4 separate regions of the Homo sapiens genome follow, and regions 2, 3 and 4 are each linked to region 1. Evidence: fine-mapped expression QTL. A gene starts in region 1. Each other region holds a variant in brackets. All regions are shown on one strand. Distances are from middle to middle. Region 1 holds the start of DOK3 (docking protein 3). Region 2 holds the start of LOC124901147 (a long non-coding RNA gene). Region 3 overlaps B4GALT7 (beta-1,4-galactosyltransferase 7). Region 4 overlaps LOC107986489 (a long non-coding RNA gene).

Region 1 (5,194 bases):
ACCCAGGTTCTGGCCACAGAGCCCAGGATGGGCCCTGATGCTTCCCCACTCCTCCCCCAGATGAGTCAGTGCTGATGGACCTCAAAGCGCTGCTGCTAGAAGCCAAGCAGAAGGTGCCGCCCGTGCTGCAGGTGCTGCATTGCGGGGATGAGTCCATGCTGGACATTGGAGGTGACTGCAGAGCGGGATCCCCGAGTCCCCAGCCGGCAGGTGGCAAGGAGGGGTGCTGGAAGTCAGAAACGTGAAACCGGTGGACCGAGGGTGCCTAACGGGGGGCCCGAAGTCCAGGGCATGGATCCTGGTCCTTGACTTGGCTGACCCCTGTCCCCATTCCCCCAGGAGAGCGCGGCTGTGCCTTCTGCGGGGGCCTGGGTCATCGGATCACTGACTGCCCCAAACTCGAGGCTATGCAGACCAAGCAGGTCAGCAACATCGGTCGCAAGGACTACCTGGCCCACAGCTCCATGGACTTCTGAGCCGACAGTCTTCCCTTCTCTCCAAGAGGCCTCAGTCCCCAAGACTGCCACCAGTCTACACATACAGCAGCCCCCTGGACAGAATCAGCATTTCAGCTCAGCTGGCCTGGGATGGGCCAGGCTGGTCCTGGCTGCCTGTTCCCTGTGCTCTTCAGAATTACTGTTTTTGTTTCCTTTTACCCCAGCTGCCATTAAAGCCCAAACCTCTAGCCCAGCCCTGGCCCTGCCTCTGTGTTTCACCTCATCCGCCCCCTGGTTCCTGGACAGACGTCACCTCTGACCTCTGGAGCCCCTCTGAGGCAAGGCCCCAGCATCTCCCACTAGCACTGCCAACACCTGGCCTGCTGGTACTTGGCTGTGGAAGGAGCCACCGAGCTGGTGCCCGCCTCTGGGGACTCTGGGTCTCTCCACTGGGTTGTCTGAATTTATGACTCAAGGAGGGACCACATTGGCGGGCCAAGGAGAAGTGCTTGGATTCTCTGGTCTCCCTGGCCAGCTGTCATAGCTCTCAGGCCCACTCTTCCTGTCAGGGCTGTGATGTTTCAGGGACTTCTCCTGAAGCCCCTTGGGAGGCTGCTTCTTGCCTCAGGACCCCCACCCACTGCCTGCCTGTGCCAGCCACCTGGAGGGAGCCCTCCATTCCGTTGACTGAGGAGGCAGCAGATGTCATAGAACTGCCATTTAGGCCACAAGCTCTCCCTAAGCCTGCTCTGTGCCCAGCTCTGCTGAGCTGTGAGGACCTAGATGGGCCAGGGAGATGGCTGCCTGGGAAGCCGTCAGGCGAGGGGAGAGAAAGACGCACACGCAGAAACGTGGACGGCAGTCACAAGACCGCTAGCAGATGAGGCAGGATCTCAGCATCTGGTGAGAGGTAGGCAGGGACGGCACAGGCGGCCACACTTCCTCTGAGCCAGGCACTTTGCATGTATGGCCACATGCTCATTCCAGTGAGACAGCGGTTGCTCAAGCCATATTTGTCACTTGATATGTGGCATTGGGCAAGTTACTTAATTTTTCTGAGCACCGATTTCCTCACTGTTGAAATGGCGATGAGAACGCAAAGGATGTGGCGTCTGAGGTGGACGGAGCTTAGGGCTGCTTGGGCCACAGTGGGCACAGAGCTGGGTGCCAGGAGGCCTTCAGGACATATTTCCTGGCCAAGTGCATTCCCAAATGGCATTCCTTATCCTCTTCCATGTTCTCTCCCAGAGGTGGTGCTGAATGACCTGAGGCTGTTCCAGAATAAAGGTATACACACAGCCCCGCTATTGGCATCTTGCTAGGCAAGCCAACAAAAGGCGCCCCCAGCAGGAAGCAAAGCTTTAAATGAACATGTGACCTCTCCGGGGCCCCCTGGGACCTGCCACCCACACTCACGTGGTTGGGGCCATTCAGGGCTGTGGGTCCCATGTGGACTGGATGCCCAGCGTGAGTGTATACCGTGAGGGCCTTTGAGCTCTCGGACAGCGTGGAGTGGTCAAGGGAGGCCTCCAGGAGGAAGAGGTGGCCAACCGCCCCAGGCAGCACAGTGGTGAGGGGGCCCTGGAGGGGCTGGCCTGGGGGAGATGCAGGCCAGAACACACAGGTCCCTGAGTGTTGGGCTGAGGAGCCTGGGCTGCACCCCAGGAAGGGGAGAGACAGGTTGGTCTTGGGTTGTGGAGAGTGCTGCATGGAGGCCCAGTGGGGCAGTGGCCCCTGGGGGGATGCCAAAGGCTGGTGATGTTCAGTGGCTCGTGAGGTGGAGAGGAGCAGGTGAACACGAGAGAGATTTCAGGGAGAAAGAAAAGCAGCAAGATGGGGTGAGGCGCTCAAACCAGGACGCCGAGTGGGAAAGCCAGGAGTTGGCTAGAGAAGGGTCCTGGGTGGAGGCAGGGCCAGGGAGTGTCAGGCCCAGGGTGCGCAGCTGCCCGGGGCGGGACGGGGGAGGGGCGGGAACTCATGACTCGGGGAGCCAGACTGCGATCAGACGCGCGTGCCCAGCTGAACCAGGTGCGTGAGAAGGCTGCCTTCAGGTGGCCGGGGGCTCCCTCCAGGTAGGTGTGGGCACCTTGGGCAGCCAGAACCCCAGGGAGGAAATACATGCTGCCCCCAGCCCCTGAGCTGAAGACAGGCTCCCCTCCCCCCGGCCTGCAGCTGTCTCTAGACGGAGGGACGGGAAGTGGCCAGAAGGGGAAGTGTGAGGAGTTCCCGTCCAGCCTGTCATCAGTCTCCCCAGGTCTTGAAGCGGCGGCCCTGCTCCTGGCCGTGACCATGGACCCTCTGGAGACCCCTATCAAGGATGGCATCCTCTACCAGCAGCATGTCAAGTTTGGCAAGGTGGGGACCCCTGGCTGCCAGGCAGCTGCCAAGGACCAACAGTGGGTGGAGAATGCAGCCTCTGCCCCTGCCTCGGACAGCCCAGGCAGACCTGGGAGACTTGGGAAGGGAGTCAGGGTGGAGGATCCCACCCAGGTATGGGGAGTGGAATGGAGTGCGGGTGTCAGCCTGAGACGGCAGGGGCTGAGCAGGCTCTGCCAGACCCTGCCTCCGGGAGAGATGGGAAATACAGGAGTGGGAGAGGGTCGAAGGCTCAAACCTCCCAGCAGGGAAGAGCTTCACAGCCTCTGACCCATGAAATAGTGCCACCGAGGGCCCTAAATAGGGTGAGGGGCTGAGCTGGAGGAGGCCTCAAGGGTGGAGCCCCTCCCTGCAGCGGCACTGTCCTGGGAGCAAGGAGGCAGGGGGTCACCTCTCCTCGGCAGCAGCCCCACACCCCCGCAGCTCAGCTGCAGCTGCTGCCCAGGCAGATAAACCGTCAGTTTCCTTTGCTCGAAGCTATTTGCATGTTTCCTTCCTTAACAGCTTGAGGCAGAGGCCTCCCTCCCACCCCAGCTCTTGGCCTGTGGCCCAAGTGCCCCTTTTTGGGGGTGAGAGGGAACCAATATAATGGCAGTGTCTGGTGGTCTGCCCGGCCACTGGATGCTTTACAAACATGACCCAGTAGCAGTCCCAGCTCGAGTTCTCATGGCCTTTTGAGAGACGACATTGATGCTTGTGGAGGTCACAGTTAGGAAAGAGCGGGCTGGGATTTGAACCCAGGGCTGACCAATCCCAAGCATAGCCAAGGCCTCCTTACCTGGCTCCCTGAGAAACTGGGGAGCAGAGGCCCGCTCCTGGCTGGGAGCGTTTGCCGAGCAGCTTGTGCTGAGCCAAGTGGCACGGACAATCTGCCACCCAAGGGTCTTCACCCTCCCGCTCCCCTCCCGCAGAAGTGCTGGCGGAAGGTGTGGGCTCTGCTGTATGCAGGAGGCCCATCAGGCGTGGCACGGCTGGAGAGCTGGGAGGTCCGGGATGGTGGCCTGGGAGCAGCGGGTGACAGGTCGGCAGGGCCTGGCCGGCGAGGGGAGCGACGGGTCATCCGCCTGGCTGACTGTGTGTCCGTGCTGCCGGCTGACGGCGAGAGCTGCCCCCGGGACACCGGTGCCTTCCTGCTCACCACCACCGAGCGAAGCCATCTACTGGCTGCTCAGCACCGCCAGGCCTGGATGGGCCCCATCTGCCAGCTGGCCTTCCCGGTGAGTGCGGCGAGCAGGGGGGCGATTGGGCTGGGGCACCTGCCCCCGACTTGTCCACCTCCACGCTCACATCCCATCACCCAGCAAGCTCCACCGAGCACCTACAAGCCTGGGAAAAGTAAATCTATAATGACTCTCAGAGGGCCGTGCGTGCCATGGAGAAAATGGACCGCCAGGGGAGCAGGAGGAAGTGAGGGAGCGACGGGCAGGGTGGCCAGGGAAGGCCTCTCAGAGGAGGGCCCTGAATGACAGGAACCCACTGGGCAAAGGTCTGAGGACAGGGGCAGCCTGGGGAGTTGTGAACAGAGGGAGTCCCGTGGGCAGAGGCCCCGAGGCCGGACAGTGTGGGGTGTTTAAGGGCAGAAAGAAGGCGACGTGGCTGGAAGGAAAGGAGTGCAGGAGGAAGCCAACTCACAGAGCTTAGGAGAGCGGCTGAAATGCCCTAGGCCATGTGTGTGGTTTTGTTCTGAGTGAGAGGCGAAGGCTTTGGAGGGTTTAAGCCGGACATGTTTGTAAAGCCCCAAAAGGTCTGTGATGGGTCAAAAGGAAGTGAGCCTGGGGGTTCTTCAAAGAGGTAAACAGAGTTACCATGTGGCCCACAGGTCCACTCCTAGGTGTGTGCCCAAGAGAACTTGAACAGGTGTTCAAACAAAACATGTACATGTGAGGCAGGAGGATCGCATGAGCCCCAGAGGTCGAGGCTGCAGTGAGCTGTAATCGTGCCACTTCACTCCAGCCCGGGAGACAGAGCAAGACCCTATCTTAAAAAAAAACCCACATGGACATGAACGTCCATAGCAGCACTACTCACAGCCACCAGAAGGTGGAAACAGCCTACATGGCCATCAGCTGACAAATGGATAAGCAAAACGTGGTCCGTCCGCAAGATGGAATACTACTCAGCCATAAAAACAAACAAACGCCTGGCACAGTAGCTCTTGCCTGTAATCTTAGCACTTTGGGAGGCTGAGGTAGGAGGATTGCTTGAGCCTAGGAATTCAAGATCAGCCTGGGCAACATAGTGAGACCCTGTCTCAAAAAAAAAAAAGAAAAGAAGAAAGAAAGAAATGTACAGACAAGGTAACTCCATTGGGATAGAAATCAGATGAGTGTTGGCAGGAGCTGGAGGAAGGGAGAAGTGGGGAGTGGCTGCTCATGGGTACA
Region 2 (5,194 bases), 570 kb before region 1:
AGGCATGTGCCACCACACCCAGCTACTTTTCGTATGTTTAGTGGAGACGGGGTTTCACCATGTTGACCAGGATGGTCTCGATCTCCTGACCTCGTGATCTGACCACCTCAGCCTCCCAAAGTGCCGGGATTACAGGCGTGAGCCACCGCGCCCTGCCAAGACTTTTGTTGACTCCAGCATAATTGGAAAACCAGTTGAGTTTTTAAAGCACAGAGGTTACATAATAAGTCTGTATTTTGCTAGAATGTAAAACCCATCAGGGCAGGGATTTTGGTCTGTTTTATTTCCAGAACACCTGGTAATAACTGAATAAACAATTGTGTAATGTATGAGTGAGCGAATGAGTGAATGGGCTGCAGGAAGGTAGATCATGCTGGCCACAGTGCAGAGATTGACTTAAGTGGGCAGAGTCTGGGAAGGGAGGTCAGGAGGCTGGGATACCAGGAGAGAATGAAAAGGGCCAGTTGGTGCAGAGAGCAGCCGGGGACAGACTGGAGGGGACAAGTGGAGAGGTTTAGAGGTGACTTTACAGTGTACTTCATACTTCAAAAGTCTGGCACAGACTAGCCATTTGTGGACATTCTAGATCTGATCAAAAGCAGAACCACCTGGCCCTTGACTCCAGCAACACCATGGCTGGCCTGGAATTTCCTCCCCGGCAACGGTCGTTCTCACAGCATTTCTTCCCAGTTTACTTAGAGCTTTCGCAGACATTGCCTCATCAGATCCTTATCACAGCCCTGAGGATGGGGACTCATTAGCTCCATTTTACAGACTCAAAAACAGAGGCCAAGAAAGGTTATGTGACTTCCCTGGGGTAACACATGGGAAACATGGAATTCAGATCCAGGTCCACCAGTCTCTGCCTCCAGGGTCCTTTCTGCTTCCTCACTCAATTGGAGAGATGTGATTAGCAAATGTGAAAGAGAGCACCAGGCAGCGTGTGGATTCAGCATGAAATGGGATATTAAGAGTGATATTAATAATAATGCATGGCTCTGATGTTCATCAAGCACTGCTGTGTGCCAGCTTCTACTCCAAGCACTTGACCCGAGTCCCCTCATTCATTCCTCAGACACTCTTTGAGTTTGGTCTGTCATTCTCCCCATTTTACACGTAGTACTGGCCAAGCACGTGAGGGACACCACTGTGGGCTTAGCCACCAGGGAAGGCCTCAGAGAGGACGTAAGATGCGGGCAGGGGAGGAAGAAGGCACCTTGAGGCAGGCTTGGCTTGAGCGAAAGTGTGGAGGAGTGGGTGAGAAAGGAGGGGAGAAGCCAATGGGTGCATGAGACAAGGCCCTGGCCTGCGTGCTCTCCAGGAGGGGCCAGGCCTGGCATTGAGGTCTGGCCACAGTAAGTCCCTAGGGCAGGGGCTGACAACAGGGTGATGAGGGTGCCCTGGGCTTCGGTGAGGAAGAGGGGTGGGAGAGGGAGACAGCTGGCTGGTCAGGGCACTGCGGGTTGGTTTGGAAGTCCTGTGCTCAATCTGTCCTCCCACCCCAGCCTCCCAAGTAGCTGTGACCACAGGCAACGCGACCACACCCAGCAAATTTTATTTATTTATCTTTTTGAGACAGGGTCTCACTCTGGTTGCCCAGGCAGGTGTGCAGTGGTGTGATCTCTGCTCACTGCAGCCTCAACCTCCCTGGCTTAGGTGATTCTCCCACCTCAGCCTCCCAAGTAGCTGGGACTACAGACAAGTGCCACCACACCCGGCTAATTTTTGTATTTTTAATAGAGATGGGGTTTTGCCATGTTGCCCAGGCTGGTCTCAAGCTCCTGGACTCAAGCAATCCGCCTGCCTTGGCCTCCCAAAGTGTTGGGATGACAGGCATGAGCCACTGTCCCGGCCAGCACCCAGCAAATTTTATGTAGCACATTTTAAGATGCCAGTAAACCAGAGGTTGCACACTGGTGCCCATAGGTTTGTTTTGTTTTGTTTTGTTTTGTTGTTTGTTTTTGAGATGGAGTCTTGCTCTGTCGCCCAGGCTGGAGTGCAGTGACACAATTTCGGCTCACTGCAAGCTCCGCCTCCCGGGTTCATCCATTCTCCTGCCTCAGCCTCCCGAGTAGCTGGGACTACAGGAACCCACCATCATGCCTGGCTAATTTTTTTGTATTTTGAGTAGAGACGGGGTTTCACCGTGTTAGCCAGGATGGTCTCGATCTCCTGACCTCGTGATCTGCCCACCTCGGCCTCCCAAAGTGCTGGGATGGTGCCCATAGGTTTTTGTTTGCTTCACAGTGTTGATTCATATAGTGTGTTGTGTTTGAAAAATTAATTGAGACCATCCTGGCTAACATGGTGAAACCCCGTCTCTACTAAAAATACAAAAAATTAGGTGGGCATGGTGGCACGTGCCTGTAGTCCCAGCTACGTGGGAGGCTGAGGCAGGAGAATCGCTTGAACCTGGGAGGTGGAGGTTGCAGTGAGCCGAGATCGCACCACTGCACTCCAGCCTGGGTGACAGAGTGAGACTCTGTCTCAAAAAAAAGAAAAAAAAAAAAAA[AAAG/G]AAAAACTAATAACCAACTCAAAAAATCAACATTTCAAATCCAAACCCAAATTATACTGATTCCTATTCGAAAACGAGAGGATCTGGGGATGCAGGGCCTCACTTCTGCATGGCAGCAATTGGCTGAAACACCTCTTGGCTGCAGTCCCCACCACTCCGTATTGCTACGCTCCACCCGTCTCACTCACCCATGCCGCTTGCTTGGCCCCCTTAGGCATTGAGTTTGCAACACCCAGTTTAGATGAACTGACGCATGATTGGAGAAGGGACTAGACTGTCTAGTGATTTGAAACTAGTCATATGAGGACCAGCTGGAGCAATGGGGAATATTTACCCGCTGGGGGCTTGATCACGGCTTTCTCATTCAAAGGGCTAAGACAGAGAAGAGGTCAGATCGGTTCTATACCACCCCCGCAAAAAACTAGAACCAGTGGACGTGCGTGCAGGGAGCGAGGAGAGGAGGCAACAGGGAGGCAGATTTACTCTCAAACTGAGGCAGACTTTTGAACATCATAACCGTTTCAAGATGCAACAGTCATGTCAGGGAGTGGCGAGCTCCCTCGCACAGAGGTGGGGGCCGTGTTTAGGCTGAGCCTGGGCAGCAGCTTCACCACAAATGTTTACAGAAAATCCAAGTGTTACGTGGGCAGCTGAACTGGATGCCCTCTGCGGTTTCTCCCAGCCCTCTAGGGCCGGGCTCTGTGCCCACAAATGGGATGCCAGGGTGAAGGAGAAGGAAGAGCTAAAAATGACTCCTCCACTGCTGGCCTGGAAGCCTGGAAGATGCTGCTGCTGGTGTAAGCGAAGAACTTAGGATGAAATTGATTGGTGGGAATGGCAGGAGAAGATTTTTTTGTGATACAGTGTCAGAAAAGCAAGGAGTTTGGGTCAGACCAGTTACGTCTTTGAAGCTTTCCACGTGTCTGTGTCTTCCTTGGAGCACCTCCCAGTGTTGTCAGGAGGATTTAGAGAAAACAGCCTGCCCAGTGCTTTTGCTTGACTAGCAGAGACAGCTGGATAAAGGTGAGTGCCCCACCCCCACTCCAGCCTGAGAGACCCTAGGGTTCTGGAACTGTGAAGTGCCACGCCTGAGTTCTGCTCCTGCCCTGGTGGCCGAAGTCTGACATCCACTTTCTGTCTGCTGGAGGGAAAAGCATGGTGGATGACCTCTAGAGGCCCTGCCAGCTCTGGGCCACTTCAGTCCTGACAGGAACCTGGGTGTCCAAGCTCTGTGTCCAAGAGGGCCAGGCTGGAGGCCGGAGCAGTGGAGTTGGGAGGCCTGGAGGCAGCTCCTTCAAATGCGCGTCTGCCATGGGAAAGGGAGATGCTCGGAGCTCACTTTTTGATATGGTTTTGACTTTCGAATCATGAACATTATCTTACATACTCAAAAAGTGCAGTTAAACCAAAAAAGGAAAAAACAACAACCTGAAATAGAATACAAATAGAAAAGAAGCTGGGAGCGGTGACTCACACCTGGAGTCCCAGCATTTTGGGAGGCTGAGGCAGGCAGATCACTTGAGGCCGGGAGTTCAAAACCAGCCTGGCCATCATGGTGAAACCTCATCTCTATTAAAAATACAAAAATTAGCCAGGCATGGTGGCACACATCTGTAATCCTAGCTACTAGGGAGACTGAGGGACAAGAATCGATCCAACCTGGGAGGCGGAGGTTGCAGTGAGCCAAGATTGTGCCACTGCACTCCAGCCTGGGTGACAGAGCAAGACCCTGTCTCAAAAAAAAAAAAAAAAAAAAAAAGAAAAGAAAATGATGCTAGGTATGGTGACTCATGCCTGTAATCTCAGCAAGGCCAAAGCAGGAAGATTGCTTGAGGCCAGCAATTCAAGACCAGACTGGGCAACAAAGCAAGACCCCCATCTCTACCAAAAAATGAAAATAAAAAGTTAGCCAGGTGTAGTGGCATACACATGTAGTCCCAGCTACTCGGGAGGCTGAGGTGGGAGAATTGCCTGAGCCTGGGAGGTCAAGGCTGCAATGAGCTGAAATCGCACCACTGCACTCCAGCCTGGGTGAAAGAGCGAGATCTTGTCTAATCTGGAACTCCCGGGCTCAAGTGATCCTCCCACCTCAGCCTCCCAATCTGAAACTCCTGGGCTCAAGTGATCCTCTGACCTCAGCCTCCCAACGTGGTGGGATTACAGTCATGAGCCACCACGCCCAGCCTCTTTATTTTGACAAGGGCTCACTCTGTTGCCCAGGCTGGAGTGCAGTGGCACAATCTTGACTCACTGCAGCCTTGACTTCCCGGGCTCAAGTGATCCTTGTGCCTCAGCCTTCAGAGTAGCTGGGACTAACCCAGGTGTGCACCACCATGCCTGGCTAATTTTTAAAAATTTTTGTAGAGACAGGGTCTTGCTTTTTTGTCCAGGCTGGTCTTGAACTCCTGGGCTCAAGTGAACCGCCCATCTCGGCCTCCCAAAGTGCTGGGATTACAGGCATGAGCCGCTGCACCCAGCATGGTGGTGTATTTCTGAAATAAATGATTGTGTGTGTTTTGCAGGCTACATATATTTTTGTGATTTTGAAGAACAGTGTTATTTGTCTGAGCTCGCTGGGATGGCTCATAGCAAAGCAAGCATTTTAACAAGTAGATACCTGGCAAATGACCCCCCAGCATGTGGGATTCAGCTGGGCTGGAAACAGCCCCCGCCTCTCAG
Region 3 (5,000 bases), 96 kb before region 1:
TCCCCTTTCTCCTGGTGGCCCTGCCCTCATCTCTTCCTGTGTGTGTGAGAGGGGTAGCAGGGTTCCATGACAGACACCCATTCTTGCACCTGGCTCAGGGGCTTCATTTACATAAAGCTGGCCCCTGCCATGGCCTGGAGAGGAGGACACCCAGGCCTGAGCCACAAGTGCTTCTTCCTGCCTGCCCGTCCACCAGCCAGTGACTGGCTGAGGGGTGGGCTCAGCACTCAAGCCGGCCAATCAAGAGCCAGTGCAGCTCACTGCGGGACTCCTGCCTGAGCTACAAGGGAAGGGCCCCATCTCCCACCAGCCCGGGGCCTAGATGGATACAGACTGCAGTAACAACCACCACCTTGCCAATAAACCCAGTGCAGGGAAGGAGAGCTGGGAGATGCACAGAGAAACAGGGTCCTGGTGACACTGTCTGAGAGGTGGGCAAGGTACACCTGAACCGCCCCTACACTCTTCAGTGTTAAGGGCCACTAACCACCCAGGTTTCTGAAGCCCCCGTGCAAGCAGTTCTGCTGCTGCGGCTGACTGGCTCGCCTGCTCTTCGCACTCTGGCTGCTCCCAAGTTCTCCTGCTAGGCCAGGGCAGGGCTCCATCTGCTGGGCCCCAGAGGCACTGCCCCATCCTTCCCACCACCCGCAGCCTGGAGGGAGCTCCCGGCTCTGAGCAGAGCAGGCTGTCCGGGCCTCACCAGCCGGTAGTGCTGCTTGGAGAGCAGCAGGATGCCGCCGACATAGGTCTTGTAGTGGTAGAGAGGGTGGAGCTCCGGGGAGGCCACGTGGAAGGGCCCAGCCTCAGGAAAGCCATAGTCCAGCTCCTCGTTGAGAGGGAGCAGGTCAACGTCGTGCATGGCAATGTAGTCCGTGCTGTTGCTGCTCTCCAGGAAGCCCACGTTGATGAGCGCTGCCCGGTTGAACCTGTGCAGGGTGGGCAAGGCTGGGCAGGGGCAGCACACGGGCTCACTGCCTGGGGCTCAGCACCCACCCGGGGGTCCCCATGGTGCCTATGCTGCCCTCTGGCCCAGCACTGACTTCACTCAGCCTGTGGGGCAGTCCCTCCACTCATCGCATATTTACTAAGCACCCACTATGTGCCAGAAACCATTCAAAGCACGGGAGGTACAGCAGTGAAAAACCAGGCCCTGTTCTCAAGGAACTGAGATTCCAATAGAAGGAAACAGAAACAAGCAAACACAAAGCGTGGCCAGCAGTGGTTCGTGCTGGGGGGAAAAGCAAAGCAGGCAAGGAGGGCGATCTTGCTGGGGGTGGAGGTGGCTCTTGTCCTCGGTGGGGCCGTCAGGGAGGGCCAGGGGAACTGAGTGACAGAAACCTGAAGGCCTGAAGAGATGACCCACAGGGCAGTGGGTGCCTAGGGCTCTGCATAGGAGAGATGGCACTGCCACGGCAGGAGGCAGGAGCAGACCAACGGGCAGCTGGGCAGGGCGAGGGCAGAGGTGGGGATGTTGGGGGTGACACAGTGACTGCACAAGGCCCAAGGGCCACTGAAGGACGGGGCTTTGACTCGGGTAAGATGGGTGCCATGGAGGCTCTGAGCAGGGTAGAGGCGTGCTGTGACTTATGCCTGGACAGGACCGCCCTAGCTGTTGTGCTGGAAGAGACTGTCAGAGCAGGGGTGAAAGCAGGGAGACCAGCTGGGAGACTATGGCAATGATTTAGGTGAGAGACCAAAAGATGAAGGTGGCCTAGCTCAGGAGGTGGCAGTGGCAACAGCGAGAAGCGGGCAGATTCTAGATGGATTTTGCTGACGAATAGGACGCAGTGTATGACAGAGAAGGAGCAGCTGAGGATGACCCCCGGGCTTTTGGGCTTGAGCAATGAGAGCAAAGAGCTTCCATTCCCATGGAGAAGAGGACAGAGCTACAGGTTTGGGGCAGGGCAGGCCACCAGCAATTCAGCTGTGATCATGGAAGCTTGCAGTAGCTCTGAGGCCACCACGTGGAGGGACTGTGTAGATGGCTGGGCTGTTGAGCCTGGAGTTTAGGAGAGAACTCCAGGAAACAGCCTCAGGAATCATCAGAGACGTGGTTTAATGCTGGAGATGACATGAGATGCCCCAAGGAACACCTGGAGTTAAAAAAGGGGGGCTGCCGAAGCACCGAGTCCAGAGAAGCCCCGATGGTGAGAGCTCGGGGAGATGAGCAGAACCCACAGACACAGAGGCCCAGCCAGTGCAGAGGGAGGACCAGAGGGTGCTGCCCCAAGCAG[G/T]GGCATTTTACGAAAGAAGATGCTGCTGGCAGGTCCACAGGATGAGGGCCCAGCATGGCCTCTGGACCAACAGAGTGGAGGAGGTGGCTGGTGACCTCAGTGAGAGCTGCTCTGTGCCATGGTGGGTGCAGGAGTCTGAGCGGAAGGGGTTCAAGAGAGACGAGGGGAGAGAAAGGGAAGGAGGTCTGCCAGAAAGCAGAGAAGGGTGACAGCCTCGAGGGATGTGGGATCCAGGGAGTCTTTTTCCTTTGAGAGAGGAGCCACTTCAGGGTGTGTGTGCTCATGGGTATGCTCCAGGAGAGGAACGCTGATCGAGAGGGAGAGGAAGGGCCCAACTGTGGGGTGGGGGGAAATACTGAAGGATGGGGATGGTGGGAGTCAGCCCGGACAGAAGCTGGAACAGCCTTGAGTCCCTGTGCACAGAGGCTGGCAGGTGAGTTGTGGAGGGAACTGGGGAAAGTTCTCTTCCATTTCATTCTGTTTTCTGAAATTGGAAGCAAAGTCGTCAGCTATGAGTGAGGACGAGGGATGAATGAGGAGAACAGATAGTTTTAAAGGCTGCAGTGGACAGACCAGAGGAAAGTGAGGCTCCCAGCAGGGCAGAGGGCCTTCCTGGCAGGGGCATCATCGGCATGGGGACAGCAGCATGGCCGCCTCACGTGTTGTCTTTCCTCTCCATACCCTCCAGTGCCCAGGCACAGGTGTGGAGCAGAGAGCTGGAGTAAATCAGGCTGGGATTACGCCAGCAGCAAGGGACCAGAGGCTTGAGGGAGTATGCCAGGGAGGGTTTTAATGATGGACCTTGGACTCCAGGTTGGGTAAGGAGGAAGTAAAGACAAGAAGGGTGGCAGGGAAAAGGGGGGGGTCTGGGGATCTGGATCAAGGGGACTTGAAAAGGTGGGAAGATCAGGCTGGTGGGGCTGAGAATCCATCTTCCAGTGGGAGTTACCTAGAGGGAAAGGAGGTGGGGGCTGGTGGGTGAGATCTCAGGCTGTGGTCATGGAAGGGAGCACTTTTTGGTAAGGGCAGGGATTTTAGGATAACGCCAGACTGTGGGCAACTTTAAAGCCGTGGCCTTGACCCTCCCTTTCCCTAATCCCCGGGCCAATCCCCAGGGAGTCCTGTCTGGGCTTCCTCCACAGCACCTCTCTCTACCCACCCCCCACCAGGCCATCAAGCCACTGTCACCGCAGACCACAGCAGTGACCACCTAACTGCTCTCCCTGCTTCTCCTCTTGCCCTGGTATAATCCATTCCACATACGGCAGCCACAGTGAGCTTTTCAAAATGGAAATTAGATCAGGGCCCTCTCCAAAGGTTCCTGTCACACCCAGTGAGAGGGGTCTGCCACCTCCCGCCCTCCTGCCCCTGCCCCAGGTGGCCTCTCACAGGGCCTGAGAAGCCTGAGCCCGGGCAGGGGTGCCGAGGGGAGAGGGTGGGGGCGGGCGCTACCTGAAGTGGTCCACCTGGTTGAGCACGTAGATGTGGTGCCGGATCTTCTTCCTGCTCAGGAAGCGGCGCATGTGGGGCACGAAGACCAGGAGCTCCTCGAAGCGTTCGCGGAAGGGCACCAGCACTGCCAGGCGGTGGGGGCCCCAGGATGCGTCTTCTTCCCAGTGCTCAGGGGGCGGCTCTGGGGGGCAGGCACGGGGAGGGCCCGAGGTCTCCTGCCCTTGTCCCCTGACTGCCCGGGCCACGTCCCCAGAGCAGCTGAGCTGCAGCCAGAGTAGGGAGAAGAAGCCCAGCGAGAGGCAGGCCACGAACAGGTGGAAGACGGAACACTTCCGAGGGAGGCCGCCGGAGAGCAACCCGGACCTGGAGCAAGCGCGGGACAGGGTCAGGAGGGCGGGGCAGGGCTGGCCCTGTGACAGACCCGTTCTCTGGCCTCCCCACGAGGAGGCTGCACATAACTCGTCTACCCCAAGCACCTGGGAATTAGTACAGAAGCAACTTTAATGTTTCTGCTCATGCCACTACCATGCATCCGAATCCTGCTTGCCTCTCTAGACCCAACCCATGCCACCCGCTCTCGGGAAGCCCTCTGAACCACTCCCAGTTCACAGAGCTGCCCCGGCTCCTCAATGCTCTCTTACTTTCTGTGACTGAGTCCTGGTCAGAGCTGCTCAGGGCAAGGATGAGGAGGCTCCTGTCACTTGCAGGTGCTCCTCCCCACGATAGTGGCTCAATGTCCTGAGCCAATGACAGGAGTCCCCACCTTAGAGATGCAACCCACTGCTTTCCAAACCCGCTCCCCTACAGATCCACCCCAGCAGAAACCGTGGCTCCATCCTGCTTCCAAGAATGACCAGAAAGGCCACCCAGACACGGGTGTGTGCTGGCATTAGTCCAGGTAAAATGACCAATGTTTACTCTGGGAAGATCAGACGTGCCCCCCGAAGCAATGCAAGGCCCAAACTGTCAGTGGCGGTTCACTGAACGAGCCTCAAACCTTTAGTCCAAGAGGCAGCTCATGATAAAAGATGGGAGATGGAGAGGGAAAGAAAGATGAGGGCTGGGTACAGCACAGGCACTGATTTCAGAAACTGGAAAAACAGCTGAACATCACAGACACTGGGGTGATGCCAGGAGACAGCCTTTTGGTTAGCAAATACAAAGAAACAGAATTCACCAGATTCCTTTGCCGCTCCTCTGGAAGTTCCTGAGTATGCTGAGACAGGAGCTGAGGAATCCATGAAGGGAGAAGCTTCCTCTGTACTCCCCCTACCTTCTCCCCAAAGTAATCTGCAAAGGAATCCACTTCACAAT
Region 4 (5,194 bases), 170 kb before region 1:
TATTTTATATATTTCTATGTGGTGTACATGTGTCTGTATATCTTTGGAGAGGCTTACATGATTATGGAGAAATATGTACAGGCTTACATACCTGGGCAAACAACATTTGCCTGGTGATGGTGGTCATGCTGGTGGTCAACAAAGAATGTATAAGAAGAGCATAAAGGGAGATAACAAACAGATTTGCAAAATTGGAAAATATTCACAGTATGCTAAGTGAAATGTATAAATCCAAAGTCTAACCACAATATTGTTAAAATATGTAAAACTGAATATGTAATGGTAACTAGGACAAAGGACAACTTAATGTGAGTAGTAGATTTTTGTCTTGGATGTCTTTTTTCACAAGAAAGTAACATTGGAACAAAGAAAAAATAGCATTTTATATATCATTATTAATTAAATGCATATTAGAACAAAACATGAGAGCACACCAACTTTTGTCTATTGATTTTGTCAATAACATGAATGCAGAAAATGTTCAGATAATTATTCTGTACAAAATGGTGTTAATAACTTCAGTTCTTTGCTACCTCAAGGTAGACCTCATACTTGGTCAAAACCACCTCCAAACAATCCTGGAATGCCTGGTTTTATGCAGTTACCCAATAACTCCTGTAAAACTAAGGTGGACATTGTGGTCATTAATGCAATTTGGCTTGAATTGGTGTCCTAATCTAATTATTACTCAAATCAGAAATGTAAAACAATGTCATTGTTTCCTACTACACTTGCTGCTAATGAACAAGTTGTACAAAGACAGGATTTGCTCAACTCATCCTCCCTCAAATCATTTCCTACATTCTTCTAACTTAAAGGATTGCTTTTGCCCAGGTTCTTTTGAGCTCTGCTTGCCCCGGAGTCCACATGCCCCATGAGTAAACTGGCTCAATTCTCCCACTACCTCCCTCCACTTAGTTAAAATTCATGAACTACCATAGTGCCTTAAAACATTATGCACCTGGCCAGGCGCGGTGGCTAACGCCTGTAATCCCAGCACTTTGGGAGGCCAAGGCAGGCGGATCACGAGGTCAGGAGATCGAGACCATCCTGGCTAACACGGTAAAACCCTGTCTCTGCTAAAAATACAAAAAATTAGCCAGGCGTGGTGGCGAGCACCTGCAGTCCCAGCTACTTGGGAGGCTGAGACAGGAGAATGGCGTGAACCGGGGAGGCGGAGCTTGCAGTGAGCCGAGATGGTGCCACTGCACTCCAGCCTGGGGGACAGAGCAAGATCCGTCTCAAAAAAAAAAGACAAAAACATTATGCACCAATGCAGGCAACTATAAACAGAAATATAAAGCCAATGTTGGAGTTGTACGGTCATAAAATGATTCAGAATGTGCTTATAATTTTTAATACTATTGCTCACCTGAAAATTACAAAATTACTTTTTCTTTTTTTTTTTTTAACCCTAGAATTTGCAGACTCCCAGGAGGTCTGGGCACTCAAATAGAGAAAGAGAGTTAGGATTTTACAAAGCTTATTGATGAAAGCAGGTAGGATGATATCATCAATTAGCCTGCTAACTAAACTCTAATTTAGAGCTGACTGGCCTTGCAATTGGGAGTAACTGTTTAGTTCCTTTCTTTCCTACTTCTTCACTTGGACCATTCCCCTATCACACAATGCTCTTTGGAACATTTGGACAAATAATTCAACTTTAAATCAGCAATTCCACTTCTAGAAATTTAACTTAAACAGATAGATATCTGGTCCAAAGTACAAAGATGTATGTGCAAGAATGTTTAAAGTAGCAAGATAATACTGTAAACATCCTAAATGTTCATTATTTGGTGTCTTGTTGAATATGCAAGCAATGTAATACTTTGTAAATGTTAGCTATTCATATAGATTTCACTGTTACTGAAAAAGATGAACAGCATAGGAGAAAAAAGTCAACGTATATGAACACAGTTTAAAGAAAAAGCTACAAATAGCCAATGAGCACTTTAAAAGTGTCATAACTTCACTCATAATGAAGTAAAGGCAATCAGGACAAGATACCAACCTTAAATTATTGGATTGGCAACAACTAAAAAGTCTGATAACCAGTGCTTGAAGAATTTGGGGAAATAAGCACTCCCAAGTGCTTTTGTTGATACGTTATTTGGTGCAACCTTTCTGGATGACAATTTGGGAATTTCTATCAATATGTAAAACACACATCTTCTAACCCAGTCCCCCATGCTTAAGAATTTCCCGGGTCAGGTGCAGTGGCTTACGCCTGTAATCCCAGCACTTCGGGAGGCCAAGGCAGGCAGATCACGAGGTCAGGAGATCGAGACCATCCTGGCTAACAGGATGAAAGCCTGTCTCTACTAAAAATACCAAAAAAAATTAGCCGGGCGTGGTGGCGGGCGCCTGTAATCCCAGCTACTCGGGAGGCTGAGGCAGGAGAATGGTGTGAGCTCGGGAGGCAGAGCTTGCAATGAGCCAAGATGGTGCCACTGCACTCCAGCCTGGGCGACAGAATGAGACTCCGTCTCAAAAAAAAAAAAAAGAATTTCCCTGCAGATATGCTGGCAAGACTTCTTAGAAGCTCAAAGATGTTGTTGTAACATAATTGGTAATAGTAATAACAAAAATACACAAAAACCCTAGAAACAACCAAAATATCCATGATAGAAAACCAATTAAATAAATTATGGCACAGCCTAACAAATGACTTTTTAATGTAAGCTGTTAAAAAGTGACAGATATGTTTACCCTGCAGTTAGGAAATAATGCCCATGATAAATTACAAAAGGCAAAGTAAATAACTGTACAGTGTGATTTTTATGGTGTGTTAGAACAGATAAGTATGTGTAGTAAGTAAGTATGTTTTGAAGGATTTACAAGAAACTAATAAAGGTATTTAGTGTTAGGAGGAAGAACTAGGAAAGAGAGGGTGGCTTTCAACTTTCACTTTTCATTTTGTAAGTTTTGGTAGCAAGAATTTACTGAACTCACAAGATGTTTCTTTTAGTTTTACAAACTGTTCAATGAGGGATACCAAGAATGGGAGAACGTGGTATATTTTTTTGCTTGCTTCTTTGTGGTTTTCTATATAAAAGCAAATACGCTATTTTAAAATATGAGCCAATAGACAATATGGATACTA[T/C]AGATCCATGTTCACTGACACAGAAAACCATAAGGACATATTAATTTAAGAAAACCAACTGTGATGCAATATGCATAGTCTGATCCCATTTATGTAAAAATTTTGCACATGTGAGTATCGGCCATTTAGAGATATCTGGAAAGATGTTATCAAAATATGATGGAGTTACACATTCTGCTTCGTAACCTTTCTCAATTGCTTTAACTTTCTCAAATGAGGATTCTTCAAACATAGGGAATGAAACAAAATTTTTACAAAGGCCTTGATATCACAGCAAATTTGAAGATGGGAAGGAAGCAGGGAGAAAGTATAAGAAAATGATTTAAATAAAGTTATGTAAACTGAGAGGCCGCCTGCTGAAGCAATCCAGTGGAAAAGCTAAGAGTGCCCTGAAACTGGAAGATTAGACCTGGAATCCCACAGAAGGGACAGAATGTTCCCTAGAGCAGGGAGAAACTTGAGCTAGCTGGCTTTAGCATAAACAAAAGCGGGTCTGCAGGCACTGACCCTGCCATGTAATGAAAAATAGAAAAAAGAAAAAATATTTTAAAGATGAATAACCACCAAAAAAAAAAAAATCCCCATTAATAAGGCAGGAAGCTTTGTATTTAGAATGTTTTTACCACAAATGATGGTTTCAAATCTCAATAGCAGGCTGCGTGCGGTGGCTCACACCTGTAATCCCAGCACTTTGGGAGGCCAAGGCAGGCGGATCACGAGGTCAGGAGTTCAAGACCAGACTGGTCAACACAGTGAAACCCCGTCTCTACTGAAAAAAAAAAATACAAAAATTAGCCGGGCATGGTGGCGTGCATGCCCAGCTACTCCCAGCTACTCGGGAGGCTGAGGCAGGAGAATCGCTTGAACCCAGGAGGCGGAGGTTGTGGTGAGCCAAGATCGTGCCACTGCACTGCAGCCTGGGTGATAGAGTGAGACTTCGTCTCAAAAATAAACAACTCTATACCAGAGCAGATATGTTATTCGATAAAGCTAAAAATGTATTTAATTTTAGTAAGTACACATGAATTCAGGTAAATACACAGAAGCAGCTCTAGAGGAATAAACATAACAGCACTGAAAAGGGGGAATTGCGAATCTGGATGGGGGAGGTGGCAAAAGGGGCCTTTAGCCTTGTCTGTAATGCTTTTAAATTTTATAAAAGAAAACCATGCACATAGTGTGTTCTATTTTGGTAAAATAGACGTAACACAAAATTTACCATTATAACCATTTTAAATATACAATTTGGCGGCATTAGTTCATTCACAAAGTTGTGCAACCATCACCACCATCCATTTCCAGAACTCTTTGTCATCCCAAGCTGAAACTCAATACACATTAAACAATAACTCCCCATTCTCCCCTTCCCCAACCCCTGAAAAACCATTATTCCATTATCTGTCTCTGTGAATTTGCCTATTCTAGGTACTTCATAAACATGGAATTGTATATTTGTCCTTTTGTATCTGGCTTATTTCACTTAGCATAATATTCTCAAGGTTCATCCATGTGACATGTTATCAGAATTTAATTCCTTTTCATGGCTGAATATATTATTCTATTATATGTATATACCACTTTTTTTTAATCCATTCATCTGCTGAGGAAGACCTGTTTCTACCTTTTGGCTATTAGAAATAATGCTGCTGTGAAGATTTGCAGACGAGTACCTGTTTGAGTCCCGTTTTCAGTTTTTCTGGGCAAATATCTAGGAGTAGAATTGTTGAATCATACGGTAATTCTACATCTAACTTTTTGAGAAACTGCCAAACTATTTTTCACAGCTGCTTCTCCATTTTACATTCCTACCAGCAACGCACAGTGGTTCCAGTTTCTCCATATCCTTCCCAAATTTGTTTTCTGTTTTTTAAAAAAATAGCCATCCTAAATGGGTATAAAGTAGGATCTCAATGTGGTTTTGATTTGCATCTTCACACATTTTCTCATGTATGAATTTTTCATTAAAAATTATTTTAAAAGAAACCATTTTTTCTTCATTAACCAACTAGTGATACCTCCTTAACTGCTAAGCTCTTTGAGAACAGAGGTAATAGCTGTCCTGCTCACTGCTTTATCCCCGACCCCTAACAT

Evidence for each region.
Region 2: its variant is fine-mapped to the expression of DOK3 in whole blood (INTERVAL, PIP 0.93).
Region 3: its variant is fine-mapped to the expression of DOK3 in whole blood (TOPMed, PIP above 0.99).
Region 4: its variant is fine-mapped to the expression of DOK3 in whole blood (INTERVAL, PIP above 0.99).

The regions. Positions count from the first base shown.
Region 1 is chr5:177,507,073-177,512,266 of GRCh38, reverse strand. It overlaps DOK3 (docking protein 3), which reads left to right and starts at 2,441. Exons shown (of 6, transcript NM_001308236.3): 1 at 2,441-2,509; 2 at 2,610-2,792; 3 at 3,725-4,030. The coding sequence starts at 2,727. DDX41 (DEAD-box helicase 41) reads left to right here. Exons shown (of 17, transcript NM_016222.4): 16 at 61-171; 17 at 340-690. The coding sequence ends at 476. RefSeq lists enhancers at 2,036-2,185, 4,006-4,055, 4,076-4,185 and a silencer at 2,316-2,455.
Region 2 is chr5:178,076,351-178,081,544 of GRCh38, reverse strand. LOC124901147 (a long non-coding RNA gene) reads left to right here and starts at 3,275. Exons shown (of 2, transcript XR_007059076.1): 1 at 3,275-3,538. The variant AAAG/G (reference allele first, on the strand shown) is at 2,513.
Region 3 is chr5:177,603,228-177,608,227 of GRCh38, reverse strand. It overlaps B4GALT7 (beta-1,4-galactosyltransferase 7), which reads right to left. Exons shown (of 6, transcript NM_007255.3): 2 at 3,687-4,049; 3 at 701-926. Among named protein-coding and RNA genes, the nearest start is that of B4GALT7, 5.6 kb to the right of the region's middle. RefSeq lists an enhancer at 1,003-1,606. The variant G/T (reference allele first, on the strand shown) is at 2,235.
Region 4 is chr5:177,675,692-177,680,885 of GRCh38, reverse strand. The region is part of intron 1 of LOC107986489 (a long non-coding RNA gene); the gene reads right to left. Among named protein-coding and RNA genes, the nearest start is that of B4GALT7, 78 kb to the right of the region's middle. The variant T/C (reference allele first, on the strand shown) is at 3,104.